Linked DNA regions of Homo sapiens. The protein of the gene in region 1 binds, or shares a complex with, the protein of each later gene. Each region holds a gene or a part of one and is shown in the gene's direction. Other genes may lie near its edges. The genes, in order: IRAK2 and IRAK4.

The links.
Region 2: the proteins of IRAK2 (region 1) and IRAK4 are in contact, whole or in part, in a crystal structure (PDB 3MOP), measured with the Homo sapiens proteins. Residues at the interface, in NP_001561.3 of Homo sapiens: Tyr6, Ile36, Lys44, Met48, Glu59, Trp62, Trp63, Trp64, Gly65, Met66, Arg67, Gln68, Ala69, Gln73; in NP_001107654.1 of Homo sapiens: Asp24, Phe25, Pro28, Gln29, Lys34, Glu92, Phe93, Phe94, Ala95, Pro96, Ser98, Val105.

The regions. Positions count from the first base shown.
Region 1 is NC_000003.12:10,162,908-10,179,427, forward strand, and holds the start of IRAK2 (interleukin-1 receptor-associated kinase-like 2), read left to right. Parts: upstream 1-2,011; 5' UTR 2,012-2,047; coding exon 2,048-2,141; intron 2,142-14,930; coding exon 14,931-15,113; intron 15,114-16,520. UniProt on the Homo sapiens protein: Binds to the IL-1 type I receptor following IL-1 engagement, triggering intracellular signaling cascades leading to transcriptional up-regulation and mRNA stabilization.
Region 2 is NC_000012.12:43,760,423-43,776,942, forward strand, and holds part of IRAK4 (interleukin-1 receptor-associated kinase 4), read left to right. Parts: intron 1-502; exon of another isoform or gene 503-550; intron 551-2,879; exon of another isoform or gene 2,880-3,034; intron 3,035-7,680; 5' UTR 7,681-7,689; coding exon 7,690-7,850; intron 7,851-10,615; exon of another isoform or gene 10,616-10,682; intron 10,683-10,797; coding exon 10,798-10,943; intron 10,944-11,757; coding exon 11,758-11,940; intron 11,941-12,489; coding exon 12,490-12,650; intron 12,651-13,542; coding exon 13,543-13,607; intron 13,608-16,520.

The DNA.
Region 1 (16,520 bases):
ATGTATACACACACTATAAATTCTGTTCCTTGTACCCTCTTTGTTTATTTAGAGACAGGGTCTCACTCTCACCCAGGCTGGAGTGCAGTGGTGCAATCTTGGCTCACTGCAATCTCCACCTCCTGGGCTCAAGTGATCCCCCTACCTTAGCCTCCCAAGTACCTGGGACTACAGGCACATGCCACCATGCCTGGCTAATTTTTGTAGAGACAGGGTCTTGCTCTGTTTCCCAGGCTGGTCTCGAATTCCTGGGCTCAAGCGATCTGCCTGCCTCTGCCTCCCAAAGTGCTGGGGTTATAGGTGGGAGCCGCCGCACCCAGCCCCTTATACCCTATTTAATAATCCAGTTTGTCCTGCAGTCCCCTGCACCATACTCTGCTTTTTTCCCAGTAATAGTATCATCTAAGATAATGCAATTGGCCACTTGCACTCCCTTTTACCACCCTCTACTTTTATTCTTTCTTTTCTTTCTTTTTTTTTTTTTTTTTTTCAGAGACAGGGTCTCATTCTGTCACTCAGGCTGCAGTGCAGTCATAGCTCACTGCAGCCTCAAACTCCTGGGTTCAAGAGATCCTACCACCTTAGCCTCCTGAGTAGCTGGGACTATAGGTGTACACTACCATGCTTGGCTCATTTTAAAATTTTTTGTAGAGGCCAGGCGTGGTGGCTCATGCCTGTAATCCTAGCACTTTGGGAGGCCGAGGCAGGCGGATCACGAGGTCAGGAGTTCAAGACCATCCTGGCCAACACAGTGAAACCCTGTCTCTACTAAAAATACAAAAATTAGCTGGGCGTGGTGGCGCGTGCCTGTAATCCCAGCTACTCGGGAGACTGAGGCAGGAGAATTGCTTGAACCGGGACCTGGGAGGCAGAGGCTGCAGTGAGCCAAGATTGCGCCACTGCACTCCAGCCTGGGCTACAGAGCAAGACTCCGTCTCAAAAAAAAAAAGTTTTTTGTAGAGATAAGATCTTCCTATGTTGCCCAGGCTTCTACTTTCATTCTCCAACATAGCTTATCTGCCTATTTTTATTGCTTGTTGTCTGTCTCCCTCCAGGACAAGGATTTTGTCCTTCTCTTCAGAGGTATTCCCAGCACCTACAACAGTGCCTGGCACATAGTAGCTGCACGATACATATTAGCTACTATAGTAAAGTCTACCTGACTACCCTATTTAATAGAATATTCCCCATGCTCAATCTGAATTCCTGATTCCCTTTAACCAACTTTTTTTCCTTTTTTTTTTTTTTTGCAATAGTGCTTATTACCTTTAAGACACTCTGTAACATACTATATTTATTATTTATTGTTAGTCTTTCTCTCCACACCTAGATTGTAAGTCTTATGAAAGCAAGGGCTTTTGTAGGCTTTTTTTTTTTTTTTTTTTTTTTTTTGAGACAGAGCCTCACTCTTCACCCAGGCTGGAGTACAAGGGCACAATCTGGGCTTACTGCAACCTCCGCCTCCAGGGTTCAAGCGATTCTTCTGCCTCAGCCTCCCAGGTAGCTGGGACTACAGGCGTGCGCCACCGTGCCCGGCTAATTTTTGTATTTTTAGTAGTGACGGGGTTTCACCATATTGGCCAGGCTAGTCTCGAACTCCTGACCTCGTGATCCGTCCGCCTCGGCCTCCCAAAGTACTGGGATTACAGGAGTGATCCACCGCGCCCGGCTGTAGGGTTTCTTATTCAGGTATTACCAACACCTAGGGAGTTGCCTGGCATACAGTAGGTAATTAATGGAGTATTTGATGAGCGCATGATGCATGGTGTAGTGCCGATGGAAGTGGGGTCAGAAGGCCTCCTGCCGCTGCGGCAGAATTCCCGTGTGGCCTTCTCCCACCAGGGCCTCAGTTTCCCCTCGCAGTTCCGATTCTCTGGCCGGCGCTGGGGTGGAGCCGGCGGGGCCGTCGTGCCGCCCGTGGCCGCTGGGGACGCTGGTGCCCTCCCGCCCCGCCCACTTCCCCGCCGGTCCGCCCCTGGCTAGAGAAGCCGCAGCCCGCAGTGTCCGACCCAGTCGTCCCGCGCCGGAGCCGGCCCCGTAGCGTGCCATGGCCTGCTACATCTACCAGCTGCCCTCCTGGGTGCTGGACGACCTGTGCCGCAACATGGACGCGCTCAGCGAGTGGGACTGGATGGAGTTCGGTGAGTGCGGCCCGGGGAGGGGAGGGGACCAGGGCGACCGGAGCCCCCAGCGATCCCGCCTGGAGCGGCCGCCAAGCTCCCTCGGGCACCCGGGTTCAGCGGGTCCCGATCCGAGGGCGTGCGAGCTGAGCCTCCTGGACCGGGTCCGCCGCGGACCTCGGCCTGTCACCTGAAGGTGCCGCGTGGTCTCTGAGGACGTCTGTCGACGAGCAGGGGCCGCCGCCACTGCGCTCTGAGTCCAGAGAACGGTGGGTACGGGGGCCCTCCTGTCAGCGCTGCTGGCTCGGTGACGTCCCCAGGTGGCCTCTCATCCAGCCCACAACAGCCTGCAAAGTGCGAGCCTCGACCCTGTAGGGACCCACGGTGCTGTCACTTCTTGGGGGGGTGTGTGTGTGTGTGTGTGTGGTGTGTTTAGTTTTAGTGTATATTAGAAGGATCTATGATTTAACATATATATATATATTGAAACGGAGTTTCGCTGTTGTTGCCCAGGCTGGAGTGCAATGGCACGGTCTCGGCTCACTGCAACCTCCACCTCTGGGATTCAAGCGATTTTCCTGCCTCGGCCTCCCGAGTAGCTGGGATTACAGGCGCCCGCTACCACCCTGGCTAATTTTTTGTATTTTCAGTAGAGACCGGGTTTCACCATGTTGGCCAGACTGGTCTTGAACTATTTTTTTTTTTTTTTTTTTTTTTTTTTAAGACGGAGTCTCACTCTGTCGCCCAGGCTGGAGTGCAGTGGCGCGATCTAGGCTCGTTGCAAGCTCCGCCTCCCGGGTTCACGCCATTCTCCTGCCTCAGCCTTCTGAGTAGCTGGGACTACAGGCGCCCGCCACCACGCCCGGCTAACTTTGTATTCTTAGTAGAGACGGGGTTTCACCGTGTTAGCCAGGATGGTCTGGATCTCCTGACCTTGTGATCCGCCCACCCTGGGCCTCCCAAAGTGCTGGGATTACAGGCATGAGCCACCGCGCCCGGCCTCCGGAACTCTTGATCTCAGGCGATCCACCTGCTTCGGCCTCCCAAAGTGCTGGGATTACAGGCGTGAGCCACTGTGCCCAGCCTATTTATCATATTTGTGATTAAATGTACTTTACCATTATAGTTTTAAAATCAGATATTTACTTTTAGTGTACATTGTTTTGATCACAGTATTTATGACTATCAACCTGTTTTGAGATCAGATGTGTCCTAATAGATTCAGTGTGTATAATGGGGCCTAAGCACAAGCACTTACTTTCACTCTATTGCAAGGTGCACAGTTCTAGATAATTCCGTGGGAAGGCACTCAGACAGCCTCCATATGTTTTGTTTGTTGGTGCCTGACGGATGACTGGCGGAGAGGGCCATGGACTCTGCGGGGAGGCCGCTTGCCTGTTGTCTCTGCTTTCCAGGTGGAGATCTGCATTCCAGGCTCTTGCTGTATGACTTTGGGCCAGTTTGTTAACCTCTCTGAGCCTCAGCTTCTGAATCTGTATGTAAACTGGAGATGATAATTATAGCTTCTTCATAAAGTTGTGAGGAATGAAAATACTGTATAAAAGCACTGACACCTAAGTGTTAAATATTCTTATAAGTCATAAGTTGTAATATTCTCTTTTCATTTTTATTTTTTTGAGACAGTCTCATTCTGTGGCCCAGGCTGGAATGCAGTGGCGAGATCTCGGCTCACTGCAGCTTCCGCCTCTTGGATTCAAGTGATTCTCTTGCCTCAGCCTCCCGAGTAGCTGGGATTACAGGCATGTGCCACCACGCCCACTAATTTTTATGTTTTTAGTAGAGATGGGGTTTCGCCATGTTGGCCAGGCTGGTCTCGAACTCCTGACCTCATGTGATTTGGCCGCTTTGGCCTCCCAAAGTGCTGGGATTACAGGCGTGAGCCACTGCTCCTGGACCTGGCTTCACTACTTTGAATGTTTCCTGGGCAGTGAACAAACTTTGTGTGAGACTCCCTCTCATTTTTTCCACATTGGCCCAGCCCTCAGTTACAAATGCCAGAACAACTTCTGTTTCTAGGAAATTCAATTAGAAGGCATACCTATGACTTAAAAAAAAAATAAAGCTTTACTGAGATATTCACATACCATACAATCCACCTGTTTCAGGAGTACAATTTAGTGGTATTTAGTATATTCACAGGGCTGTGTATCCATCTTCACAATCAATCTTAGAACATTTTAATCACCCGAAGAAGAAACTCTGTACCCGTTAACTTCCAATCCCCTCCTTCCATTTTCCTGAGTTTTAGACATTGCCTATTTTGGACATTTCATATAAATGGAATCATATAATATATAGTGCTCTGTGACTGACTTGTTTCAACTAACATGAGGTTCATCCATGTTGTAGCATGCGTCAATACTTAGTTTCTTTTTTTTTTTTTTGAGACGGAGTCTCGCTTTGTCACCCAGGCTGGAGTGCAGTGGCGCAATCTCGGCTCACTGCAAGCTCCACCTCCTGGGTTCATGCCATTCTCCTGCTTCAGCCTCCCTAGCAGCTTGGACTACAGGTGCCTGCCACCATGCCCGGCTAATTTTTTTGTATTTTTAGTAGAGATGGGGTTTCACTGTGTTAGCCAGGATGGTCTTGATCTCCTGACCGTGTAATCCACCTACCTCGGCTTCCCAAAGTGCTGGGATTACAGGCGTGAGCCACCGCGCCCAGCCAGTTTCTTTTTATTGTAGGATAATGTTCCATGGTATGGATATACTACATTTCATTCATTTATCAGTTGTTGGGCATTGGGTTCTTTTCACTTTTGGGCCATTGTGAATAGTGCTGCTGTGAACACTCACATACAAGATTTTGTGCAGTGGTGCAAATGTAGCTCACCGCAGCCCCAACTTCCTGGGCTCAAGCGATCTTCCTGTCTCCTGAGTAGCTGGACTACAGGTGTGCACTGCTGCACCCAGCTAACTTTTGTATTTTTTGTAGAGACAGGTTTCACCATGTTACTCAGGCTGATCTTGAACTCTGGAGCTCAAGCGATCTGCCCATCTCACCTTCCCAAATTGCTGGGATTACAGGTGTGAGCCACTGCATCTGGCTTTATGTTTAACTATTTGAGGAGCTACCAGATGTTTTCTAAAGTGGCTGAACCACCAGTGTATGAGGATGACCATTTCTCCACATCCTTGTCAACATGTGTTATTTTTTTCTTTTTTTAATTTTTTTTTTTTTGAGACAGAGTCTCGCTCTGTCGCTGAGGCTGGAGTGCAGTGGCATGATCTCGGCTCGCTGCAACCTTAGCCTCCTGGGTTCAAGCGATTCTTGTGCCTCAGCCTCCCAAGTAGCTGGGATTACAGGCATGCACCACCGTGCCTGACTAATTTTTGTATCTTCAGTAGAGACAGGGTTTCACCGTGTTGGCCAGGCTGGTCTCAAACTCCTAACCTCAGGTGATCTGCCCGCCTCGGCCTCCCAAAGTGCTGGGATTACAGGTGTGAGCACCATGTCCGGCCTTATTGTTGCTTTTTTGATGGTAGCCACCTGAGCCAGTGTGAAGTGGCATCTTACTGTGGTTTGATTTGCATTTCCCTAATGACTAATGCTGTGGAGCATCTTTTCCTGTGCTTGTTGGCCATTTGCACATCTTCTTTGGAGAATACCTCTGCGAGGCTCCCCACTGGGATGGATATGATCTGAACACCTTGCCAGGCATGTTGACTCTGACACATCTGCCCAGTGCTGGCCTCTCTGACCTCCTCTTCTTCCACACCCACTGTCACTCCCCTGCTCCAGCCACACTGACCTCCCTGGGCCAGACACAGGGTCTTTGCAGGTGCTGTTCCCTCTGCCTGGGACGTTCTTCCCCCTGTGTTACCTGGGGCTAGCTTTCTAGTCTATTAGTTTCCTCCTGTTGCAGTTATAGATTACTACAATATCAGGGGAACCAGCCCGCAGTATTTCAATGTAGGTTCTTTTCTATTTTCCCTAAGTGTCGGCCGGTCTGAGAAATAAAGAGTACAAAGAGAGAAATTTTACATCTAGGCCTCTGGGGGTGCTGTTACACATTGGTAGGACCGTGATGGTGACCCCGAGCCACAAAACCAGCGAGTTTTTATTAGGGATTTCAAAAGGGGAGGGGTGTACGAATAGGGAGTAGGTCCCAGAGATCACATTCTTCAAAGGGCAATAAAAGATCACAAGGCAAAGGTGAAATTAGAATTACTGGTGAAGGTCCATGTCCCACTGGGCACGCATTGTCTTGATAAACATCTTAACAGGAAACAGGGTTGGAGAGCAGACAACCCGTCTGACTAGAATTCACCAGGCTGGAATTTCCCAATCCTAGTAAGCCTGAGGGCACTGCAGGAGACCAGGGCATATTTCATCCCTTATCTCAACTGCATCAGACAGACACCCCCAGAGTGGCCATTTATAGACCTACCCCGGGAATGCGTTCCTTCCCCAGGGTTATCAATTATTAATATTCCTTGCTGGGAAAAGAATTCAGCGATATTTCTCCTACTCACACGTCCATCTATAGGCTCTCTGTGAGAAGAAAAATATGGCTCTATTCTGCCCGACCCCACAGGCAGTCAGACCTTATGGTTATCTTCCCTTGTTCCCTGAACATCACTGTTATTCTGTTCTTTTTCAGGGTGCCCTGATTTCATATTGTTTAAACACCCACGTTTTACAATCAGATTTCATATTTTTCAAACACACGTTTTACAAACAATTTATACAGTTAATGCAATCATCACAGGGTCCTGAGGTGACATACATCCTCAGCTTATGAAAATGATGGGATTAAGAGATTAAAGACAGGCATAGGAAATTATAAGAGTATAAATGTCCATAAAATCTTCACAATTTATGTTCAGAGATTGCAGTAAAGACAGACGTAAGAAATTATAAAAGTATTAATTTTGGGAACTGATAAATGTCCATGAAATCTTCACAAGTTGTATTCTTCTGCCGTGGCTTCAGCCGGTCCTGTTCGGGGCCCCTGACTTCCCACAACACTACAAAGTTGGTGGCCTGTAACACCTCAAGTTTATTATCTCAGCATTCTGGAGGTCAGAAGTCCTAACTCAGGGTGGCTCTAGGGAGGAGTCGGTCTCCTGGCCTTGACTGGCTTCCTGAGGCCTGCAGCATCCTGTGGCTTATGGCCCCTTCCTCCATCATCAAGGCCATGGGTGTGTATCATCACATCTGTCTCTGTGACTTCTGCTTCTACCATCACCTCATCTCTGAATCTGATGTTCTGGCCTCCCCCTTACAGGGACCCTGGTAATTACCTTGGCCAGACCCAGAGAATCCAGGATAATCTCATCTCAGAATCCTTGATTTAATCTAACCTGCAAAGTCCCTTTTGCTATGTAAGGTACCATATTCACAGGTCTCGGGGCTTAGGATGTGGATGTTTTCCAAGGGTATTATTCTGTCTGTCACAGTCCTTCAGGTAAGCTCCTGTGGCACCTCTTTGAAATCAAGAGGACTTTCCTGCCCCTGTTCCTCTCTAGCCCATCACCGTGTTTCATTTCCCTCATTCCGCTTCACAGCCTTTGATGTCCCCTCGTTCCTGAATTTTTTCCACCTGTCTCTCCCTATGGAATGGAAGCCCCGTGCGGGCAGGGGCCTTACCTGTCTAGTTTTTCACTGCTGTATTCCCAGAGCCTGGGACAGTGCCTGGCTAGAGGGCAGGTGCCAGAATGAATGATGAGCTGCCAGGCCTTGGTGTGGTGAGGATGCGGGCTGCCCACTCTTACCCATTGGAGCTGGCCTGGAGCCTTTGGTCAGCCCACTTCCTACACTGGATCAGAGCCAGCGGTGCCTCCGGCCCACTGCTCCTCGCCCAGTCCCAGTGCTCCAGTTCCCTCTTCAGCTGAATGAACGAGTGACTGTGATTGACCCTTCAGTCCTAAAAATTCTTGGCTTCCTGTGGGTCATTTTAGAAAGAAGACAGTCCCTCAGAGCTGATGGTGATACTGGGAGAGTGTAGTGAGAACGCTAAAGTGATTCAGAAGATCCCGCAGCCACAGACAGCCACGCTCTTTCAGATCCGACACTTGTTGGCAGATAATCTGGCCACGCCTAGTTCTTGTCTCCGTGATGGCAGCTGCCTCTGTTGGGCTTTGCCTGAGCCTGTGTAAAAAGGGTTTCCTACAGCTTCAGCCCCAGGTGTGTGCAGAGGGGCTCGGCGCAGGGGCTCTTCTGTGTGTGGCCGTTCCCCGTCTCGTTCACTCATGCGTGTGCCAGCCTTTGTGCACAGCCCTGCTTTGCCCTGCCCAGCTGTGTGACATCAGGCAGGTGACTATCTCTCTCTGAGCCTTTAGTTTCCTCATCCATGAAGCACCCTCACAGTGTTGCTGAGAGGCTTAGGAGACTCAGCTTATTGTAAAGGGTCAAGTTAGGGCTTTCCTCATCCCCCACCCAGGGAGGGGTGTGGGCATTCGATTCTAAGATGGGTCATTTCAGGAGGCTGTGCCATCCCTGCTGTGGAGGACTTTGAAGACAGGCAAGGTTTTCTACTGCCTCGGGTGAACTCCTGCAGGATTCAGGAACTCAAGAGTGATAGTCCCTGTACTGTTAATCATCAGGGATAAAAACATTTTCAGGCCAGGTGCAGTGGCTCACGCCTCTAATTTCAACACTTTGGGAGGCCTAGGTGGGAAAATTTCTTGAAGCCAAGAGTTTGAGACCAGCCTCGTGATCCGCCCGCCTCAGCCTCCCAAAGTGTTTGGATTACAGGCGTGAGCCACTGCACCCAGCCTTTTTTTTTTTTTTGAGACGGAGTCTCACTCTGTTGCCCAGGCTGGAGTCCAATGATGCAATCTCAGCTCACTGCAACCTCGGCCTCCTGGGTTCAAGTGATTCTCCTGCCTCAGCCTCCAGAGTAGCTGGGACTACAGGCGCCCGCCACCACACTCTGCTAGTTTTTGCATTTTCAGTAGAGATGGGCTGGGCGTAGTGGCTCACGGCTGTAATCTCAGCACTTTGGGAGGCCAAGGTGGGAGGACCACGAGGTCAGGAGTTCGAAACCAGCCTGGCCAACATGGTGAAACTCTGTCCCTACTAAAAATATGAAAATTGGCCAGGTGCGGTGGCTCATGCCTGTAATCCTAGCTCTTTGGGAGGCTGAGGTGGGTGGATCATGAGGTCAGGAGATTGAGACCATCCTGGCTAACACAGTGAAACCCCGTTTCTACTAAAAAAAAAAATTAGCCGGGCATGGTGGCAGGCGCCTGTAGTCCTAGCTACTCAGGAGGCTGAGGCAGGAGAATGGTGTGAACCTGGGAGGTGGAGCTTGCAGTGAGCAGAGATCGCACCACTGCACTCCAGCCTGGGCGACAGAGCGAGACTCCGTCTCAAAAAAACAAACAAACAAAAAATTAGCCAGGTGTGATGGCACTCGCCTGTAATCCCAGCTATTCGGGAGGCTGAGGCAGGAGAATTGCTTGAACCTGGGAGGTGGAGGTTGCAGTGAGCTGACATGTGCCATTGCACTCCAGCCTGGGCAACAAGAGTAAAACTCCGACTCAAAAAAAAAAAAAAAAAAAAGGCCGGGCGCGGTGGCTCATGCCTGTAATCCCAGCACTTTGGGAGGCCGAGGTGGGTGGATCACGAGGTCAGGAGTTTGAGCCCAGCCTGGCCAACATAGTGAAACCCCGTCTCTACCAAAAATACAAAAATTAGCTGGGCATGGTGGCACATGCCTGTAGTCCCAGCTACTCGGGAGGCTGAGGTAGGAGAATTGTGTGAACCCAGGAGGTGGAGGTTGTGGTGAGCCAAGATCGCGCCACTGCACTCCAGCCTGGGCAACAGAGCGAGACTCTGTCTCAAAAAAAAAAAAAAAAAAAAAAAAGTAGAGACGGGGTTTCATCATGTCGGCCAGGCTGGTCTCAAACTCCTGACCTCGTTATCCGCTTGCCTTGGCCTCCCAAAGTGCTGGGATTACAGGCGTGAGCCACCGCACCTGGCCAAACTCTATGAAAAACAGGTTTTCATAGAATGTAGATAGTTTAACACTTACAGCTAATACTTATATCATGTTTATTGTGTGTTAAGCACTGTTCTGAGTGCTTCTGTACATAGAACTCATCTAATCCTTGCAACAATCTCGGAGGCAGGTGCTGCTGTTATCCTTGTTTGACAGATGAGGAAACTGAGGCTCAGGGGGAGATGAACACCTTCCCCAAAAACACAGCAAGTAAGCAGCAGAGACAGGATTTGAACCCAGGCCCCGAATCCCAATATCTGGCCTCTGAACCACCACTACTGTCCTGCTGACTTTCGCACATGTTTTCATATCTGTAGAAAAAGTCTGGAAGATTAGACACCAAAATGTAACTGGTGGTGTCCTTGGAGTCCTCCAAGTGGGATAATCATGGGGACTTTCATTTTCTTGTTTCCCAAATATTCTACGATGACCAGCTATTACCTGTCCATGCTGAGAAAAAAGCTGCAGCTTAGCAGAAGGCCTTGGTAGTGACTCATCCCCTCAAGATCTCTATCATGTCCCGACTCTAAAGGGTCTGGTTGAGACTGGGTACGGTGGCTGATGCCTGTGATCCCAGCTCTTTGGGAGGCCAAGGAGGGTGGATCACTTGAGCTCAGGAGTTTGATACCAGCCTGGCCAAGATAGTGAAACTCCATCTCTACTAAAAATACCAAAAAATTAGCCGAGAGTGGTGGCACATGCCCTGTAGCCCCAGCTACTTGGGAGGCTGAGGCAGGAGAATTGCTTGAACCTGGGAGGCATAGGCTGCAGTGAACTGAGATCACGCCACTGCACTCCAGCCTGGGCAGCAGAGCAAGACTCCGTCTGAAAAAAACTAAATAAAATAAATAAAGGGTCTGGTTAAATGCTGATTGGTCAACACCTTAAGATATGGCACCGTCATGGAACAAAAATGTCTAAGCTGGAAGGCACCTTAGAGTTTAATTCCTGTTTCTCTTGTATTACCATCACGAGTAAGGAAAGTTCAGCCCACAGAGAGTCAGGCTGTGGCTGAGTTCCTGCTGCCACCCACGAGGGGTGGCCCTGGGCTTCTGTTTTCCCATTACGTCATGCTGCCTCCCAAGATGGGAGTGTGTGTGGATGACCAATGCTTCGTGGGGGGAGATGGTCCTTCCTTTTCCATCCGTTCTCTTCTCTGTATTGCTAGAAGCAGCCGCTGACCCAGCTGACATCACTTCCCACTGACCAGCAATCTGGCCTGGGGTTTCCAGTGACTAACATAGCAATTTAGGAACTTTCCATCTTAATTGGGCACTTCTCCTGGAGGCTTTCTGTGTGCAGGAGACTGTCACCAGCCCATTTTGTCCAAAGGGTAGGGGATTGTGCAATCTGGTCACAGCACTCACTGGCTCTGAAATTTTCTGTGGTCCCTTGTAACTCTTAGGATCAAGTCCAAACTCCAAAGCTGGGCATTCACTTGAGGGTCTTTGTTATGTGGTCCTGGGCTTCATCTCTTGCCTTCCCTTCTTCTACTCGGCCCACCTATGTTTATATATTTTTTTGTTTTGTTTTGTTTTATTTTTTTGAGATGGAGTCTCACTCTGTTGCCCACGCTGGAGTGCAGTGGCGTGATCTCGGCTCACTGCAACCTCTGCCTCCCGGGTTCAAGTGATTCTCCTGCCTCAGCCTTCCACGTAGCTGGGACTACAAGTGGGCACCACCACGCTTGGCTAATTTTTGTATTTTTAGTGGAGATGGGAGTTCACCATGTTGGCCAGGCTGGTCTCGAACTCCTGAACTTAGGTGATCCGCCCACCTCAGCCTCCCAAAGTGCTGGGATTACAGGCATGAACCACTGCACCCGGCTGATTACTCCTAGTTTTAATAAAAATGCCTTTCTCACTTCAGTAAACCAGTGGAATACTGGTCATAAAAATCCATTTATGGGCCAGGCACAGTGGTTCATGCCTGTACCAAAAAAAAAAATTAGCCAGGAATGGTGGTGTGTCTGTCATCCCAGCTGCTGGGGAGGCTGAGGTGGGAGGATTGCTTGAGCCTGGGAGGCCAAGGCTGTGGTGATCCATGTTTGCACCACTGTACTCATGCCACCTGGGCAACAGAGTGACACCCTGTCTCAAAAAAAAAAAAGATTTTTAAATTTTTATTTATTTTTAATTTTTATATTTTTGAGACTCAGTCTCTGTCGCTCAGGCTGGAGTGCAGTGGCACGATCTCAGCTCACTGCAACCTCCACCTCCTAGGTTCAAGTGATTTCTCCTACCTCAGCCTCCCGAGTAGCTGGGAGATTACAGGCGTGTGTTACCACACCTGGCTAATTTTTGTATTTTTAGTAGAGACGGGGTTTCACCATGTTGGCCAGGCTAGTATCGAACTCCTGACCTCAGGTGATCCACCTGCCTCAGCCTCCCAAAGTGCTAGGATTATAGGCATGAGCCACTGTGCCCAGTCCCTGTGGTATAATGTTAATAAATAAGACCAGGATGCAGAATCTCAGGTGAGGCATGGTGGCTCACACCTGCAATCCCAGCACTTTAAGAGGTTGAGGTGGGAAGATTGCTTGAGGCGAGGAGTGCGAGAGCAGCCTGGGCAACATAGTGAGACCCCATCTCTTAAGAAAAGGTACAAAATCAGCTGGGCACGGTGGCTCACGCCTGTAATCCCAGTACTTTGGGAGGCCGAGGCAGGCGCATCACAAGGTCAGGAGATTGAGACCATCCTGGCTAATGTGGTGAAACCTGGTCTCTACTAAAAATACAAAAAAATTAGCCAGGCGTGGTGGTGGGCGCCTGTAGTCCCAGCTACTCGGGAGGCTGAGGCCGGAGAATGGCCTGAACCCGGGAGGCGGAGCTTGCAGTGAGCTCAGGAGTGCACCACTGCACTCCAGCCTGGGTGACAGAGCGAGACTCCGTCTCAAAAAAAAAAAAAAAAAAAAAAAGAAAAGATACAAAATCTTACCTGCAGCGTGGCAACAACTACATCCAAAGACACATCTATGTAGAGGGGGTGATTTTTGGAAAGGGGAAGTACCCTAATGGCCTTAGGAGGGTGGTGAGATGCTGTGTAACTTTTCCCCCTGTATTGTCCATGTTTTTTTTTTTTTTTTTTTTTTTTGGTGAACAACCATCAATTTTATGGTAAAACACCAAAAGAAAGAATGCATTATTTTTATTGTTACTAGTGGTAGCTCCCTGCAAGTTTTGTCCCATACTTCAGAATTGGCAAAGTATTTTTGTATCCATGGCTCTCTGATCCTTATAACAGTTCTGTGAAGACGATGTGGTATGTGTGTGTGTTTTCATTCAGTCATTCACTTAGCATATCTTTTTTGTTGTTGTTTTTGGAGACAAGGTCTTGCTGTGTTGCCCAGGCTGGAGTGCAGTGACATCATCGTGGCTTGCTGCAGCCTCCAACTCCTGGGCTCAAGTGATCCTCCCATCTCAGCCTCCTGAGTAGCTAGGACTACAGATGCATGCCACCATGCCTGGCTACTTTGTTTATTTATTTATTTATTTATTTTGAGACAGAGTCTCTCTCTGTCTCCCAGGCTGGAGTGCAGTGGCGCGATCTTGGCTCATTGCAAGCTCTGCCTCTCGGGTTCATGACATTCTCCTGCCTCAGCCTCCCGAGTAGCTGGGACTACAGGTGCACGCCACCACGCCCGGCTAATTTTTTGTATTTTTAGTAGAGACGAGGTTTCACCATGTTAGCCAGCATGGTCTCAATCTCCTGACCTTGCGATCTGCCCGCCTTGGCCTTCCAAAGTGCTGGGATTACAGGCGTAAGCCACTGCGCCTGGCCTACTTCGTTTATTTTTTGTAGAGACAGGGTCTTTTTTTTGTTTTGAGATGGAGTCTCGCTCTGTCGCCCAGGCTGGAGTGCAATGGCGTGATCTTGGCTCACTGCAAGCTCCGCCTCCCAGGTTCACGCCATTCTCTTGCCTCAGCCTCCCGAGTAGCTGGGACTACAGGTGCCCGCCACCACGCCCGGCTAATTTTTCTATTTTTAGTAGAGACAGGGTTTCACCGTGTTAGCCAGGATGGTCTTGATCTCCTGACCTTGTGGTCCACCTGCCTCGGCCTCCCAAAGTGCTGGGATTACAGGTGTGAGCCACCATGCCCGGCCTACTTTGTTTATTTTTTGTAGAGACAGGGTCTCACTATGTTGCCCAGGCTGGTCTTGAACTCCTGAGCTCCAGCAATCCCTCCTTGGTCTCCTAAAGTATTGGAATTACAGCTGTGAGCCGCTGCACCTGGCCTCATACACTTGTTGAGTTCCCCTGACCAGGACTGGGACTTAGCTGAGAGGAATGAGATGCCCAGGGCAAAATGTAAGGAGGCGCTGATGCTCAGGGTCCTGCGGTGCCACCTGAAGATGAGCGCCTCCTGCATTTTCCTTCCCTAGGTGCCTCACCTGACTCACCCTCATCCTGGCCCCACCTCCACTCTGAACCAGGCACTATTCTCAATTCTGGGGAAGTAACAGTGAACCAAACAGGTAGAGCTCCCTGCCTACACGGACCTTCCATTATAGAAGGGGAGGCAGGCAGAGCTAGTACCCACTGAGGCTCCCACGGGCGCAGTGACTGCCCCAGGCATAGCAGCAGCCAATGCTCAAGGCTTTGACCCTCCTGTCCCGTGGTCTTTCTCCTAAGTCATATGTACTGGACCCCATGGGTGCCCAGCAGAGTCAGCGTTGTAACTTGGGCCACCTGTGGACCTCAGCTAATGGTGGTGTTTCCAGTGTGGAGGCGGTGGTTGGGGAGGATGTCCTGGAAAAGCCCAGCTAGGGGCTAGTGTGGGGACCTGTCCTAGAGGGACTGCCTCTCTGACTCTAAGCAGAGTTCTCTCCGTCCCTTCCAGCCTCCTACGTGATCACAGACCTGACCCAGCTGCGGAAGATCAAGTCCATGGAGCGGGTGCAGGGTGTGAGCATCACGCGGGAGCTGCTGTGGTGGTGGGGCATGCGGCAGGCCACCGTCCAGCAACTTGTGGACCTCCTGTGCCGCCTGGAGCTCTACCGGGCTGCCCAGATCATCCTGAACTGTGAGTAACTCAGGGCCCTCCTTGAGTGGGGCCCATCACGCTCCTGAGCAGTTTCCATCCGTGTGAGTTGCACTCTCTGGCCTTAATACTTTTTTCCTCTTTTAATTAAAAAATTTAATGAGTGAGTTTACCATGCACATAAGAAACTGGTAACAGGCCAGGTGCGGTGGCTCACGCCTGTAATCCCAGCACTTCCGGAGGCTGAGGTAGGTGAATCACCTGAAGTCAGGAGTTTGAGACTGGCCTGGCTAACATGGTGAAAACCCGTCTCTACTAAAAATACAAAATTAGCTGGGCTTGGTGGCCTGCGCCTGTAATCCCAGCTACTCAGGAGGCTGAGGCAGGAGAATCGCTTGAACCTGGGAGGCGGAGGTTGCAGTGAGCCAGGATTGCACCACTGCACTCCAGCCTGGGTGACAGTGAGACTCTGTCTCCAAAAGAAAAAAAAAAAAGAAACAAAAAAAAGAAACTGGTAACAGTGGTTACCTGTGGGGAGAGGAACTGGGCTGCCAGAGAACACAGTATTGGAGGGAGACTTTACTGTAAATTATTTCATACCTTTTAAATTTGGGCTATCTGTTCCAAAAATAAATACATTAATTAATTTAAAAAACCCCAATAGCTATAACAAAAATTCAAAAAAGCATGCAGCAAAAATGATTCATATTGCTTCTTTTCCCCACTTTACATCCCAAGAAGTAATGATTGGTAAAAATTTCTGGCTTGTCTTACTAGAAATTTTCTCTGCATGGGCAAGGGTATTATATATCTGCAATTCCTTTTTTAAAAACTTTTTTTTTGAGACAGGGTCGTGCTCTGCTGCCCAGGCTGGAGAGCAATAGTGTGATCAAAGCTCACTGCAGCCTTGATGTCCTGGGCTCAAGTGTCCTCCTGCCTCAACTTCCTGAGTAATTGGGACTATAGGCACATGCCACCATGCCTGACTAATTTTTCATTTTTTTGTAGAGATCCAGGCTGGTCTTGAACTCCTGGTCTCAAGTGATCCTCCTGCCTTGGCCTCCCAAAGTGCTGGGATTGCAGGCATGAGTCACATCACCCTGCCTGCAACCCCCTTTTGATACAGCTAGTAGCACATCATGTATTGTGAATTTTTTTTCACCTAGCAAAGACCTTGGGGACTTTTCATATTGACACATTCTTTCTAATAGCTACATTGTATTCCTTTGACAGATGCTCTATGATTTGTTTGCCCCTATTGAGATGTGTTTATGTTCCTTCTAGCATTTTTCAGTTGTTTTTTTTTTTTTTGAGATGAAGTTTCACTCTGTCTCCCAGGCTGGAGAGCAGTGGCACGATCTTGGCTCACCACAACCTCCACCTCCCATGTTCAAGAGATTCTCCTGCCTCAGCCTCCCAAGTAGCTGTGATTACAGGTGCCCACTACCA
Region 2 (16,520 bases), on another chromosome or scaffold:
AGCATGTCTCTTTTCTCAAAACTTCCAGCATCTACATCTCACCCAGAGGATAAACAAAGTCAATACAAAAACTCTAAGGCCCTTGAAGACCTGGCCCCTTTACCTTTCTGACCTCATCTGCTACTTGCCTGTTCCCTCCTCTGCAGTCTCACCATGTCCTTGCTGTTGCCCAGTGGGCCCAGTTCCAACCTTTGCATTTACATTTCGTTTTGTCCACAAACTTTTCCCACAGATAGTCCAGTGGCTGGCTTTCTCCTTCTTTTTGACCTTTAATCAAATGGCACCTTCTTATTGAGGCTTCCTGTGACTACCATATTTATAATTACAACCTTTTCTCTATTTCGTTTTGTTCTTTCATTTCACTTGGCACCATCTAACATACTATAGAGTTTATTTATTTGCTTATTGCCTTCCTTCCTCCATTAGAATATAAACTCCATGAATTCAGGTTTTGGTTTTGTTTTGTTTTTTTTCTCTAATTTTCCTAATGCTTCATCTCCAGGGGCCTGGAGCAGTATCTAGCACAAAGTAGACACTCAGTAAATATTTGGTGAGTCAATGGTATTATATTTTGTTTTTTAAATATATGCAAAGCATTTTCAATTACTTACTGTTGTGTTGGATCAATGTTCAAGAAAGATATGTTAAGTTTAATTTATGGTACACCAGCACATATCCCAGTTTGTAATAGGCAGCCCTATCTAATTTAATAGCTCTGGAAGCCCTCACCAGCTTTTGTTCATAATGATGATGTTAAAGTATCTAAAAATAAAGATTAATGGTTATACAGCATATTTTGCTAAGAATATATGGAAGTAAATAGTGTATTTTAGAAAGGATATAAATACATTAAAATTACCATGGTTGATCAAATAAGACAGCCACCATCTCAAAAGCTTAGCTATTTTCTCAGACTTGTTATTTGTACGCTTTCAGTAGATCCTCACTACTGTTCTGGAAATTGAACCTAAATACAGTCTGCACATATCTTTAAAAATAATGTGATATAAGAATAATTTCTGCCAGGAAATAATAATTGCTCCTTTTTTTTTTTGACCACCTATTATTATGTGACAAGATTTGGCCCTTTGCATGTGTTGATTTTAATTCTTACAGCAATTCTTAGGTATTACTATCTCTGTTTTTCAGATAAAGAAAAGCAAGGTGCAGAGAAATGTATTTACTAGCTCTGGTCACAGTTGGCTTTGGTTAGAACTTAGGCCTGTGCAACCTCAAAGTTCATCTTCCCTCCACCCCTGCACAATCTTTTCCTCTGATCAAAGTGCTAATGAAGCAGTCTTAAAACTTTATTAACACATTTGACAAGAATCTTTTGCCCTCCTGTTTTGGGCACAGTACTTTGGGAAGGCATTGGATTCCATAAGCAGGTGCTTATTTTAATATATTTCTCAATCACCACCCCACCTTTTACACTTGTCTGAATTGTCTTACTTGAAAATATGAATGGGTTTTCTTTACTATGAGAGTTAGTGGTATGAGGAAACAGTCATGAAGGTATTTACTTATTTGTAAGCAACATATCCTGTTCCACCTGTGTTAATCCTAAGTGTACTAAAGTAAATCTTGAAGAATTTGAAAGAGATGACACTTTTTAAGTTTTTTTTTGCCCAGTCTGTTTTCATTATTGAAAATTCAGAAAAGCAAAATGAAAACAAAACTATCATAAAAGTCATCACCAAGGGATAACCACGTTAATATTTTGGCTTATGTTCTTGTAAGTATGTGGTTGGGAGTGGTATATGAATATACATTTAAAGTAAAATTTTAATTTCTGGGATTTTGAACTTCTGGGCACATGTGTGGAGGAGTTGCAGAAGGCCTTCTTTTTCCTAGTATCCCTACACTTATCACCTCTGCTGGAAGCCTGGGTGCAGGAGAGCTACCAAATTTATCCCTGGCCTTTAGATAGTCTGGGTTTTTTCCTCAATTCCTTGTATTTTGCTCTAATTTATAAGACTACTAAGCAGTTCTATCTTGTCTAGCTTTGTCAATCATGTTGTACCTTACAGTAGAGAGAAATCTTAGTAAGGAAAAATAACTTGAAGAGAGCAACTGCAGAGTCTATAGGCAACCTAGATACAATTTCTTAATTAAAGTTAAAAAGTCATCAGCCTTTCATTCAACACAAATGTTGTGAGTCGTTGCTGAGGTGAATTTGGTTGGGTCCTAGCTCAGGAGAGCACCCATCTAACAGAGAAAGCAAACACATAAACAGTAAAACATAATAATTATTATAACAGAAGAATGACTAGGTGACATTTTGGAGCAAAAGAGATGACAATCAGGGGAAGCTAACAGTGCCTTTTGAATTGGGCTTGAAGGAATAATAGGCATTTACCAGGTGGCCTTTAAGGTATGTGGGCTATTCTTTTACCTGGCCCTAGATGACTTCATTTCCTGTTTCACAGAAAAAATAACAGTATGTGGGAACTCTTCTCCCTTCAAATATATCTGTATTTAAACCTCTGCTTCCTTCTTTCTAGATTCAAAAGAGGTTTCTCTCTATTCAAGGCTGATTTCTTCACCCTATATGCTATTCATTATCCCATTTGTATTGCCAAACAGCTTAAGTCTTAAACCCTTAACACCAACAGTTCTCAAAAGTCTGGTTGGAGTCCCTAATGCTCTTTCAGGAGATTTGTAAGGTCAAAATCATGTTTAGTTAAAAGATTCATTCAGAGTGCAATGGATTTTAATGTTCCAAGTTAATTTATACAGCTTCAGATTCCTCATTGCAGCTTACCTTTAGGAAGTTATTTCTTGTCAAATTTTAGTGTAGTATCAAAGAGAAATATCTACTACTTTGTGAAAAGGCTATTAAAATACACCTTTCTTTATAACTATATGTCTGTGTGAAGCTGGATTTTCTTCATATACATCAACCAAAACAACATGCTGCAGTGGGTTGAGTGCAGAAGCAGATACAAGAATTCAGCTCTCTTCTATTAAGTTAAATATTGAAGAGATTAGCAAAACTTTAAAACAATGTTGTTCTTCTGTTTTTGAGGAAAAGGTAATTATTTTATTAAAATATATATGCTAACATCTATATTTATGATTATTTTAAATGAATTAATAAGTAATTTTTAAGTTTCTCAGCATCAATTTATTATGGTAAATATTGGTAGATATAACCAACATAAACAAAAGCCCTTTGGGGTCTACAATAGTTTTTAAGAGGGTAAAAGGTCCTGAGACCAAATTTGAAAACTGCTACTCTCTTGCATGCTCTCCTCCCTCTCTTTCCCTACCCCTCCACCCCCATTTTCCCTCCCCTCATACTCCTCTCTCTCTCTTTCTCCTTCCCTTCATAACCAGACTTCTTGGAAAATCTGTTTTTGCCATTCACTCACTTTTTCACTATAGCTGTTCCCAAGTCACCAATGGCCTTCTGATTTCAGAGTCTAACATATCCATCAGTGTCTATTTGACCTCTCTGAGTCTTTTATACCAACCTGCCACCTTTTCTAGAAGTCTCTGGTATGCTACCATCCTGGTTTTTTTCTTGCCTTCATGACTAAGCAGTATTTTTTAAAATTCTTCTTTCACATCATTCCTTTCCATTCTAAGCATTCCTAATAGGCAACCTCATTTTATTGTTGCTTCAACTGTATATGTGTATATGCTCTTAATTTGTATGAGGGCATTTCAAAAAGTTTGTGGAAAAATTGAATTAAAAGATAAAAAATGTAAACTTTGGCTCAGCACTATGGCTCATACCTGTAATCCCAGCACTTTGGGAGGCCGAGGTGGGCAGATCACCTGAGGTCAGGAGTTCAAGACCAGCCTGGTCAACATGGCGAAACCCCATCTCTACCAAAAATACAAGAATTAGCTGGGTGTGGTGGTGCACACCTGTAATCCCAGCTACTTGGGAGGCTGAGGCAGGAGAATCGCTTAAACCTGGGAGGCAGAGGTTGCAGTAAGCCAAAATTGCACCACTGCACTACAGCCTGGATGATAGAGCAAGACTCCAAAAACAAAAACAAAACTGTAAACTTTATTTCTGAACATAAGCCCATGAAGTTCAAGACACTTTTGTAAGCGATAACACCAGCCATTTGGGCCATCCCTAAAGAACTGAGAGTCCTGGGAATTTAACCACATCAATGAAGTCTTTTTTACATTATTAACTGAAGAAAAATGGGTGCTCTATGAAGATTTTTCAAGATTGGGAAACAAAAAGAAGTCAGAAGGAGACAAATCAGGACTGTAAGGTGGATGCCTAATGATTTCCAGTTGAAACTCACAGAATTGCCCTTGTTTGATGAGAGAAAAGAGCAGGGGCATTGTGATGGAGAAGGACTCTGTGGTGAAGCTTTCCCAGGTGTTTTTCTGCTAAACATTTGACTAAAGCTGTAACAGAAAAGCTTTAGTTTAGAAACACTTAGAAAAGCTACTGTTTCTCAAAACCCTCTCTAATAAGCAGATGTTACCATTCTTTTTCCCTCCAGAAAGTCAGCAAGCAAAATACCTTGAGCATCCCAAAAACCTGCAGCCATGCCCTTGCTTTTGACTGTCTGCTTTTGCTTTAATTGGACCACTGCCACTTTGGGGGAGCCATTGCTTTGATTGTGCTTTAGGATCATACTCGTAAAGTCATGTTTCATCTCCTGTTACAATTTTTTGAGGAAATGGTTTAGGATCTTCATCCCACTTGTTTAAAGTTTCCATTGAAAGCTCTGCTCGCATCTGCAGCTGATCTGGGTACAACAGTTTGGGCAGCCATCAAGTGGAAAGTTTGCTCAACTTTAATTTTCAGTCAGAATTGTATAGGCTGAACTAGTTGTCTATGGTGTTCACTGTTGGTTCTGCTGTTAATTATAGGTACTCTTCATTTAGGGCACAAACGAGATGAATGTTTTCCTCGAAAATCGATGTGGATGGTCTGCCGCAGCAGGCTTCATCTTCAACATCATCTCATCCCTTAAAATGAGTTACTGATTTGTACACTGCTGATTTTCTGGGGGCATTGTCCCCATAAATAAAGCATCAGTGATTTCACCATTCTTCCAACCAACCTCCACCATAAATGTGGTGTTTGTTCTTGCTTTAGTTTTAGCAGAATTCATGTTGCTGTGGTAGAGGTTCTTTTCAAACTGTCTTATTCTTCTCAGTGTCTCAACTAGATCCTGTTTAGACATGAATGATAAGTTAGTATGAGTTTATTTTGGAAATACATTTTGCAAAAAAAAAAAAATTGAAATCCATGCATGGTTTTTGCACGATATGCATTTTCCATGAACTCTTTGAAAACCCCTTATATATGAGAATACTTACATAATGAGCATTCTTTGCTGAAACCTCTCTCCTAAGCTCCAGACCACATATATAAGTACTTGGTATGAAGGCTCCTAGATAGTGCCAAAGGTAGATATTTCACATTTAACATGAGCCAAAAAAAAAAAAAAAACTTCATTCTATCTCCCTTTCTTCTAATCGCTCATCTCTAGTGAAATTGTTTTGATTTGGCCTCCTAAATGTTTTGACGTTTTACCTCTCCATTCCCCTACCCTATACTTTTTCCAAGCTCTCCTTTCTGCTCACCTGGATTATTGCAGAAGTTTTCAAACTAATTTTCTTGCCTCAATATACATCCCTTTGATTTTTATCCAGAGGAATCCACTTAACCATATAAGATTATTTAACATCCCTCCTAAAAATCCTAAAGTGGCTCTCCTGTAACTTTTAGTTTATAAGTTCAAACTCTTTGTCTTAGCACATGAGGTACATGATGATCTGGCCCTGCTACCTTTCCACCCTCATCTCTTCTCACTTAATCACAGGCATCCTGTGGTCCAGCCATAGCAAGCTCTTTGCCTGAGACACACATGCTCTTACCTTTTCCCATGCTATTCCCTCTGCCTGGAATTTTCTTTTGGGCTTATCCTCATTCCCTTTCATTCATCCTTCCAACCTCCTACTCCAACCAAATCTGTCTTGATATCCCTATTCCAGACTGCCTCTGCTTGATGCCCCTTTTCTGGGCCCCATAACATTCTTGCAGCATTTATCACTCCCTGTCACTGTTTGTATCCCCTGGTATACTGAACAGCTTGGAAACAAAGATTTTCTCTTCTCTGTGCTCCCACTTGTTAGTACAAAGACTGACATAAATATTTTCTGAATGTATTCATGAATGAAAGGAAAGGAATGGTCTTTCTGAAATAGAGAATGGCATGAACAATGCATTGTGTTATAAAAGCAGAGTTGTATGGCATGACTTTTGGAGTCAGACATAATTGTAAGTCCTGGATCTCTCACTTACCACCTTTGTAAAATAGAGATGATAAAACTGTACTGGGAAATAATTTAGTTGTTCCAAAAGTAAATACTGAACAATACCATTATCTACAGTATGCAAGTCACTAGGTGTATATTCATGAATAAAATTAGCATGGTCCTGAACTCATGGATCTTAAAATCGAATATGGGAGACAGTAAACAGGTAAACAAATAAGTATATGATTACAAATACATTGTGCAGTGATGAAAGATAATTAGGTGAAGGGCAGCTAGACCTATTTAGATGTGGTCAAAGAAGTCCAAAGAGAAGAAGTGAATACTAACATAGAAGCCTCTGATACAGAGAAGCTTTTCGCTTTTTACTCTTTTTGATAGTTTTAGAATGTTGTTCCATATGAACACATTATTTACTCTAAAATTGTATTTTTAAAATATATATAGGGAAGCAAAAATAATTGACAGAAGAATATCTGAGTCTATTTGTCTTAATTGGAAGGAAAGATCATTTCCTATTGAGAATGAGGGACACGCAGAACAAATAAAATCCACATAGAAAGAAGTAAAGGTATGAAATAGTCACTAAGGACTATGAGAGAAGACAAGTGGAAGGATTAACGGCAGTGTTGAAGGCCCTGTGGAAAGGGGGTTACCATAAATTTGTATTCACATCAGCAACCCTGGTGTACAAGTAAAGTTGTTAGATTTATCCCTGGCTGCAGCTCTCCAGGATGGAGTAGCAGAAGTAAAGGGGGATTGCAGAAATAAAGATTCTGTCTAGAGAGTAGTTGAAGTGGTGAAGCACAGGTTTTGGCGTAGTAGCAAATGAATTGTGGTCAGGCAGATCTCATGGACTCAAAAAATGTGCAGAGGTCAAGGAAGAGCAAAGTATGTGAAAAGTGGGTGGGTGGACCATATCTGTTAATGCTACACAAATCATTTCAGTACGTTTTTTTTTTTTACTTCTACCAAAGAATGTTGCATAAATTTTAATTGTAAATAAGTACTAATTGAGAAACATAAATTGAAAGGTAAATGTTTTTATTAATAGATTTGATTTCTGAATATGCTAATTCTGATAGTTTGTTGATATTACTCTTAAGAATTTTTCTGGTAAGTTTTTTGCCCCTTTCTATAAATTTTACTAGGAAAATATCAGTGTCAGAAAAAAGTCCTCCGATTTTTATTGCTATTAATGGGTGGAAAAAGGAAGCAAACCCAGAGGATAATTGGACAAATGAATTACAATTTTAATTTCATCTTAGGATATCAATGACTTGACTTTGGAATGTTTCTTTATTATGGTATAATCAGTTGCTGACATTTCATATGATATAGCAAAGTGTGATATATAAGCTTACAGATGTCATCTCTAAAAGTACTGTAAAATTTTAATGAGATTTTTCCATATTTTAGGAATAGAAGATGAACAAACCCATAACACCATCAACATATGTGCGCTGCCTCAATGTTGGACTAATTAGGAAGCTGTCAGATTTTATTGATCCTCAAGAAGGATGGAAGAAGTTAGCTGTAGCTATTAAAAAACCATCTGGTGATGATAGATACAATCAGTTTCACATAAGGTAACAGATAAAATTCTTTGTATTTTTAAATTCTTACATCACAATATGGAATGATTAATTGGTATAAGTACTGTCTAATGTGGCAGTTTAGAAAGTAAACCTCTCCACTATGGAGGAGACATTGGTAGTAGGTAACCTCTTTTTGATTGTTCCTTTTGCAGTTTTGTCTTCTTTGTCCCATATGTCAATAGGGCTAATACTGTGATCTCTCAAATAAGTTTTTTGGGTTAGAATCAAGATTCCCACCTTTGCTGTGGTTCCCTGTTTGGCAAGCCAAGTGAAGTTCACTCTGCCTCACACTTCTCATTTCCAGATTGAAGGAAAATAAGAATGTTACAAGAATGTCTGGTAAAAATCTAGAGCTTAAATTTCAAAGTGTGTGAATCTCTAACACACTCTAACAATGTATTTTGGGACTTTTTCAATTTGACGTTTTAAAGTTGTTGCTTACAAGTGTACACTTCTGTGCACAGAATTCTTAAATCTTAGCTAGGATTTCTCAGTGCTGTCTTCAGATAATTTCAATTTTTCCTTTTTACTCATCTCTGCTCAATTTAGTGTAAAATATGCATGCATATTTTATTTTTGTCAGTCATTGCAGTTAAAACCTATGTCAAAATGTTTCTTTGGTAGCAAAAGGAAAAGAAGACTATTTGTTATTTTCAGCATTAATCTGGGAAAGAACCTAAAAGACTTGGCTCCCTTGCAGGAAATATTTCCTCATAAGAAGAGCGAACATGTTAAATTACTTGAAAGAAGCTTAAGTTTAAACTGTGTTAAGCCAATGTTTAAAGATAATTTTTTGATATTACTGTTAAAAACTTATGGAAGATAATTGGGGCAGTGGTGGCAGGAAGATAAAGCTCTTCTCTTTTTTTTTTCTTTTTTCCAAGACTCATTCCTGTGACAGAAAAAGCTTTTCTTTACAGAATAATACCTGCAAATAATTGTGAAAAGAATGGTAGAATGAGAAAAATACCTATTTGCAACCACCAATGAGTAACTGATTCATGCAAGGCTCATCACTGAACCTAAAAGCATAAGGTGAAAGGTGGTTGTTCTCGTGCATGTGAGCAGGATATGCACAAGATTTTAAAGTATTATAGGCTGAGCACAGTGGCTCATGCCTGTAATCCTAACACTTGTGGAGACCGAGGTGGGCAGATTGCTTGAGCCCAGGAGTTCAAGACCAGCCTGGACAACATGGTAAAACCCCATCACTACAAAAAATTAGCTGGGTGTGGTAGTGCACGCCTGTAGTCCCAGCTACTTGGGAGGTTGAGGTGGGAGGATCACCTGAGCCCAGGAAGTCAAGGCTGCAGTGAGCCATGATCATGCCACTGCACTCCAGCCTGAGTGACAGAGCAAGACCCCCTCAATAGATAGAGAAAAAGTATTGTACACAAATTACTTGTGAAGTATGAAAGAGAAGGGTACATTTTTAATGAGGAAATCTGAAGTACACTTCCTTCACCAAGTGATCAAACTTTAGCACCAATAATAATGGTACAAAATGCTAATATGTACCCCTGGATGTGATACAATGGGAAAGGCACATTATACCTATGTAGTATTTCTACCAAAATGCTTAATCTGAATTTAATCATGAGAAAGTAGTCAGATAAATCTAGGCTGTTAGACCCATTCTATAAGACATCTGGCCCGTATTCTAAAACACACACACCCACAGACACAGATTGAAAGAGAGAATGCACAAGAGCCCAGATATGGCACAATTTTATCAATTATTCAATTGGTGAATCTAGGTGAATGGTTGTTCATTCTATCATTTTTTCAACTTTTCTGTAAGTTTGAAATTTTTAAAAATAAAATCTTTAGAGGAAAAACAGAAAGAAACAATATTGGTTAAATTTTTAAATGTTACTTTTCAAAACTAATTTTTGATTTTAAAGAAATGGAAAGAAATGGGTTGAAAGCCGACTTTGTGATTTTTTTCAATTTAATTGAATTACAGTTAAGATCAAAGGAATAATTTCCTAAGTTTTTGTGTGTTCTGTTTCTTTAATTAAGCAGGTGCATTTATTAAAAATTATATAGCTATCAGAGTCTTAAGTCATGTGGGAAGTAATATTGCTAGTAGATTAAGAATACACTCTTTTGTCAAATGAGATCTGAATTTGTACCTCAACTTGGATACATCATATTGGCTGTGTGGCTATGGGCTGGTTACTCTACCTCTCCAAGCCTGGCTTTTTCACTAGTAAATTCATATGATAATCATAATATCTTTGAACATGCTCATGTGTGTGCATCCTATAACCCACTAAGTAAATATCCAGTAAGTACCCAGTAAATTATTATCATCATCTTTGGCATCTTTTTTCCTCCTATCTTTCCTGTCTCTCTGTAATTCTTGCTGGTTCTCTTGTTGTCCCTTTTCTTTAATGTTGTAGGAGATGCTGTGGGCAAAATGGGCAGGGGAGATCAACACCTATTTTCATATGACCTCAGTTTATAAATGCTATTGTTTGAATGTGTCCCCAAAAGTTCATGTGTTAGAAACTTAATACCCATTGCAACAGGGTTGATAGGTGGGACCTTTAAAGGGTAGTTAGGCCATGAGAGCTTTGCCCTTATGAGTGGATTAATGTCGTCATGGCAGGAGTGGGTTAGTTATCTAGGGAGTGGGTTTCTGATAAAAGGATAAGTTAGGCCCTATTTTTCTTTTTCTCTCTCTCTCTTTTTTTTTCTCTTTCACATGCACGTGTGCATGCTCTTTTGCCCTTCTGCCCTTCCACCATGAGATGATGTAGCAAGAAGGCCCTAACCAGATGCAGCCTCTCGATCTTGGACTTCCCAGCCTCCAGAACCGTGAGCCAAATTAACTATTATTTATAAATTACCCTGTCTGTGGTATTCTATTATTGCAGCACAAAATGGACTAAGACAATAGACTAATTTTGTTTCTTTGTTACTTACTTTTAAGGAGATTTGAAGCATTACTTCAAACTGGAAAAAGTCCCACTTCTGAATTACTGTTTGACTGGGGCACCACAAATTGCACAGTTGGTGATCTTGTGGATCTTTTGATCCAAAATGAATTTTTTGCTCCTGCGAGTCTTTTGCTCCCAGGTAAACTGATTGTGACCAGGGTGTCCACAATTAGGGTGGAAAGACAAATGGCAGAAATATAAATGTTTCTTCTTACTCTTCCTTTTTTCTCATAGTAGATGAAGCTTACATTTGAGAGTCCCTTTCTTTCAGCACTCCTCAACTCTTTAAAAAGCAGCACAGACAAAGGACACTGTGGACTCTGCTGCTAAGGTGATAGAAGCTTCGTAAGAGTTAGATAGTTTTGTGCCAACAGGAAGTTTAGAAGGAAAGACTTCATACTTCTGGCTTAGGCTGTAAGAAAGTAATTATAATTTTGAGTTCTTCCTTTTTTTCATCTTCAACTTCTACCCTGATGGGACTCTATAATCATAATTTTAAAAAATTGTATTCTGATGTGGTAGTGTCTAGTTGCCTTCCTTATAAGCTTTCTTTTTTTCCTTTGATGCCTTTCACACCAGTGGTTCTCAACCTTTATCATGCATAAGAATCACTTAGGTTCTGGTTAAACATGTAGTTTCCTAGGGTCTGTTCCAAATCTATGTAATCAGAATTCTGGAATTGGGTTTAAGGTCTATATTCTTAAACAGGTGCTTCAGTGCCTCTGATATAGGTGGCTCATGGATCACTGTTTGAAAACACTGCCTTACTCTCTTTACCCATCTTCATTATAACTTACAGATTCTTACTAGGCAGCTTCTTGTGTGTGCTGTGAGAATATGAGACCAACCTGTAGAAACTGGAATGATATTAAATGAACCAAGTTTCTAGTTTAACTTTTTCACAACCACTTTTTCTTACTGAAAAACCACTTGTATCTTACTTCATTTGTTAGATGCTGTTCCCAAAACTGCTAATACACTACCTTCTAAAGAAGCTATAACAGTTCAGCAAAAACAGATGCCTTTCTGTGACAAAGACAGGACATTGATGACACCTGTGCAGAATCTTGAACAAAGCTATATGCCACCTGACTCCTCAAGTCCAGAAAATAAAAGTTTAGAAGTTAGTGATACACGTAAGTAACATTTTCAGTGCTTTCCACTAGGGATTTGTCATTAAGACTACCAGTGCTTTAAAAGAAAGCTCTTGCTCTTTTGTTTGTGCAGCAATCACAGGCACACTGGCAATAGCTCTTTTGTGAGTTGTTTCCTCCTGATATATTAAGAACCATCTTCATTGTATTAATCAGTGATTAGAGGCAATAGGACATGCAAACAACCAGAGAAGCTATGAAAAAAAATAAGTAAATATTTACATAACTTGGAAAGGTCACTTTTTAAAATAAAATATGTGACTAGAGTTTTGGGTAGGTAGACTAGACCCACTCAAATGTGTGACTAGAATTTTGGGTGGGTGACTACAGTGTTCAGAGGGTAGGATCACCAAACAGAGTTCTCAAGAAAAACTTATAATTTGTATTTTAGAAATGGTTTTATCTTCTCTCATCTTGTCTAATTCAAAATCATAAATATTTGCATATATGTGAAATCTTCAAATGAGAAAATATTATAATTATTAAAACGAATTTTTAAAATTTAAGCATGTTTTTCTTATTTTGACATAGGTTTTCACAGTTTTTCATTTTATGAATTGAAGAATGTCACAAATAACTTTGATGAACGACCCATTTCTGTTGGTGGTAATAAAATGGGAGAGGGAGGATTTGGAGTTGTATATAAAGGCTACGTAAATAACACAACTGTGGCAGTGAAGAAGCTTGCAGCAGTAAGTTATATTTTCAGGAATAAAAAGAAAGAGTTGCTTCATAGTGTGCCCTATAATAGGTTTTAAAGTTAATCTTTAGGAAATACATTATTTCAGTATGTATTTTCTTTAAATAAACATCATTCTAAATAGTAGTTCTTAAAATTTTAAAATCTGTTGAACACTATGGACCCTACCCCTAGAAAAATGTGGTTATGTCCATGTACACAAGATCATACATACAATTTTGGGAGATTCACAAACTAAAGTTGAGAAGCCCTGCTCCACATAGTGCTTCATGTGTAATCAAGATTAAAATGGTAAGATACCAGGAAAACTATTTTTAAAAAACCTTGTTTGCATTACTTTTCCCATTTAAAAATAAAATTTAGGAAGTATACATTAAGAAAAAACATTAAAATTTTTTTTATCTGTGTCCTTTGTTGCCATTTCTACTGAGGTGTTTACCTTTTACTTACTTGTTATATTCTAAATCTTTTGTTAGAGCCTAAAAATATCAATAGAATGCATATGTATGTGATAAAGATAGTCACTCTTTGTCATATATGTTGCAGGGCTTTTGTAGGGTTTTTTTTTCCATTTTGCACCTAAATTGCTTATGTTTTCTGTTTCCTAGAATTTTTTTCAAATTTTTTTGTGTAGTGAAATTTCGTGTTATTTCATTTTGTTTCCACAACTCAGTGAAATTTATATATATTTTTCATTCCACTAACCAGCCATGGGCCTTGAGCAAATCACTAGTATTTCTAGATCTCAGTTATTCTGTAGAATTGGGAGAATAATACACTATTGTTTTAAAGAAAGGGAGATGAGCCAGCTGATCTCTTGATCCCTCTGAGCATTAGGAACCTTAGAATTGTGTAGTATTACATTGTATATTTTATTTTTTCAGATGGTTGACATTACTACTGAAGAACTGAAACAGCAGTTTGATCAAGAAATAAAAGTAATGGCAAAGTAAGTCTTAATCTGGCAGTGCGGTGTAGTGGAAAGAAAAAAGACAAGGAGTAAAGAACCTGGTTCACTCTAGAGTATGCCATGAACTAGTGATGTTTGCACATATATGAAATTAAAATAAAGTGTTTAGATTAGAGAAATTGAAAGTACTTTTGGCTCCATAATTCTATGATTACATATACTCATATGCCTGGAGATTAAATAGCAGTCATTTTTATTTATTTATTTTTTTTGAGACAGAGTCTCGCTCTTTTGCCCAAGCTGGAGTGCAGTGGCATGATCTCGGCTCACTGCAACCTCTGCCTCCCAGGTTCAAGCGATTCTCCTGCCTCAGCCTCCCGAGTAGCTGGACCTACAGGCGTGTGCCACCATGCCTGGCTAATTTTTTTCTGTATTTTTAGTAGAGACGGGGTTTCACCGTGTTAGCCAGGATAGTCTCGATCTCCTGACCTTGTGATCCACCTGCCTCAGCCTCCCAAAGAGCTGGGATTACAGGCGTGACCACGCCTGGCCGCAGTCATTATTTTAAGTCACAACAAAGTTACGTGAAATTTCACTATCATGTCCTTCATTATCATGTTTTCCACTTCCAGAATTCATGAGAGATCAATTGTAGAGATACTTAAAAACAACTATCTATAGAGTAATAGGCCCTTATATATAAAGTAGCATCTATAGAGCAACTAGAGTCATGTTATCTGTAAGGATGCTTAGAAGGCATTGATCCTGTGTGCTGGAAAATTGTTGGACATCATCAGGAAAAGTAGGAGGGACAAAGTAGGAAATGTATTCTAATTATTATAGTGATTAATAGTGATTGATATTTGAGTGTGTGCAACATGCCAGACATTGTGCTATGTACTTTATGTGCATTGTCTGTCTAACCCTTACAACTGTTACAACTGCCCATTTTGTTTGTTAACTGAGATTTAGAAACATTAAATAGCTTGTCCAAGATCACATAGCCAGTAAGTGTTAGAGATGGGATTGAAATCCAGATCTGTTTGATTGCGGAGCCTGAACTTTAGATCTGAATCGTAATGGGATTTACCAAATTATACCCATTAAACCCACTGCTGTAAATCACCAATCATAGTTACCTAACCTCAAGTAAGAAGAATAGACTAGAATTGATTTATGCACGGTAAAAATGATACATGCTGAAAAAAGATCAAACTTTTTTTTTCAGGATTTGTCTTCTTCACTCCTACCCCTACTCTCCAATTCTAAAAGTAACTTGTTCACAGTAGGTCATCTGGAAAATACAGGAAAACATTTTTAAAATATACAAGCCTATATGCATGCAGGACTTAATACGTAGGTGATGGGTTGATAGGTGCAGCAAACCACTATGGTACACGTTTACCTGTATGACAAACCTGCACATTCTGTACATGTATCCCGGAACTTAATAATACAAACCATCTCTCAAATATATCACTCAGAGATAACCACTGCTAATATTTTTATATACTTGCTTCATGATGTGTGTGTAGCATTTTCCCATGTCACTAAAAATAATTTGAAAACATTTTAAATTATTGTACAACAGTCTAGCATATGTGAAAATCATATTTTATTTAACCATAGCTAGGTTTGTTTCTAATTTTCAGTATTAAAAATAAAGCTTCTTTAAAGTTCTTTGCACATAAATCTTTAAATGCAGTTATACTTACTTTATCATCTAGGGTAAAGTCCTAGAAAAAGAATTACTAGGTAGGAATGCATGAACTTTTTAAAGACTTTCTAAATACACATTCAAATGGCTTTTGAGATAAGTTACTACCAGCAATGTATTACAATTTCAAACTTTACTGGTTCCTTACCTTCATTTAATATCATTACTTTTTTTTTTTTTTTTTTTTTTTTTGAGACGGAATCTCGCTCTGTTGCCCAGGCTGGAATGCAGTGGTGCGATCTTGGCTCACTGCAAGCTCCGCCTCCCAGGTTCACGCCATTCTCCCGCCTCAGCCTCCAGAGTAGCTGGGACTACAGGCGACCGTCACCATGCCCGGCTAATTTTGTTTTTGTATTTTTAGTAGAGACGGGGTTTCACCACGTTAGCCAGGATGGTTTAGATCTGACGTCGTGATCTGCCTGCCTCGGCTGGGAATACAGGCGTGAGTCACTGCGCCCGGCCTATTATTACAATTTTTTAATAAGTGCCAGTCTCTGGATCTTACTAGCAGAATGAACTTGGCCAAGTTTTTTAACTTTCTATTCGTTAATTTTCTCATCTATAAAATGGGACAATAGTACTTACTTAAGTTATTGTGAGGATTAAATAAAACAGATAAATCACTTGCCACACTGCCTCGTTTATAGTATAAATTCAGCAAACGTTAACTACTCATGTTTAAAATGTGCCAGTTTGGTGGAAAATGGGACACTTACTGTTTTAATTTGCACTTCTTCAAATATTTATGAGACTAGAAGAAATTGATATAATGAACTGCTAGAATTGTGGATCATTTTGAATGAACAAAATGAATAAGCACTTAAATAATAAAACACTTATCATGTGCCAGATACGTTTCTAGGCTGTCATGTTTACATTTGCTCATTTAATTGTCTCAGCATCCATATTACATACTGTTTTCTGCATTTAGCAGATAAAGGAGCTGAGGCTCAGTAAGGCTGTTAACTTGCGGTAGGTCACATATCCAGGAGGGGGCAGAACTAGACTTTAAATTTAGGATGTATAACTCTGAGCCCTGTTTTCTTTCGTCTTACCACAGATGCTGCCACTTTATTAGATTGTAGGTCTCTTTAGTTTTATTACTCTCAAGTATATAAAGACACTCAAATTAGGTTATAAATAATCCAGTGTGATTAAAGATCAAAAACATGTAAATTAGATGTGATTCAAGATCATGTCTGTAAATCAGTGCTTTGAGTGTGTTAGAAAATTCT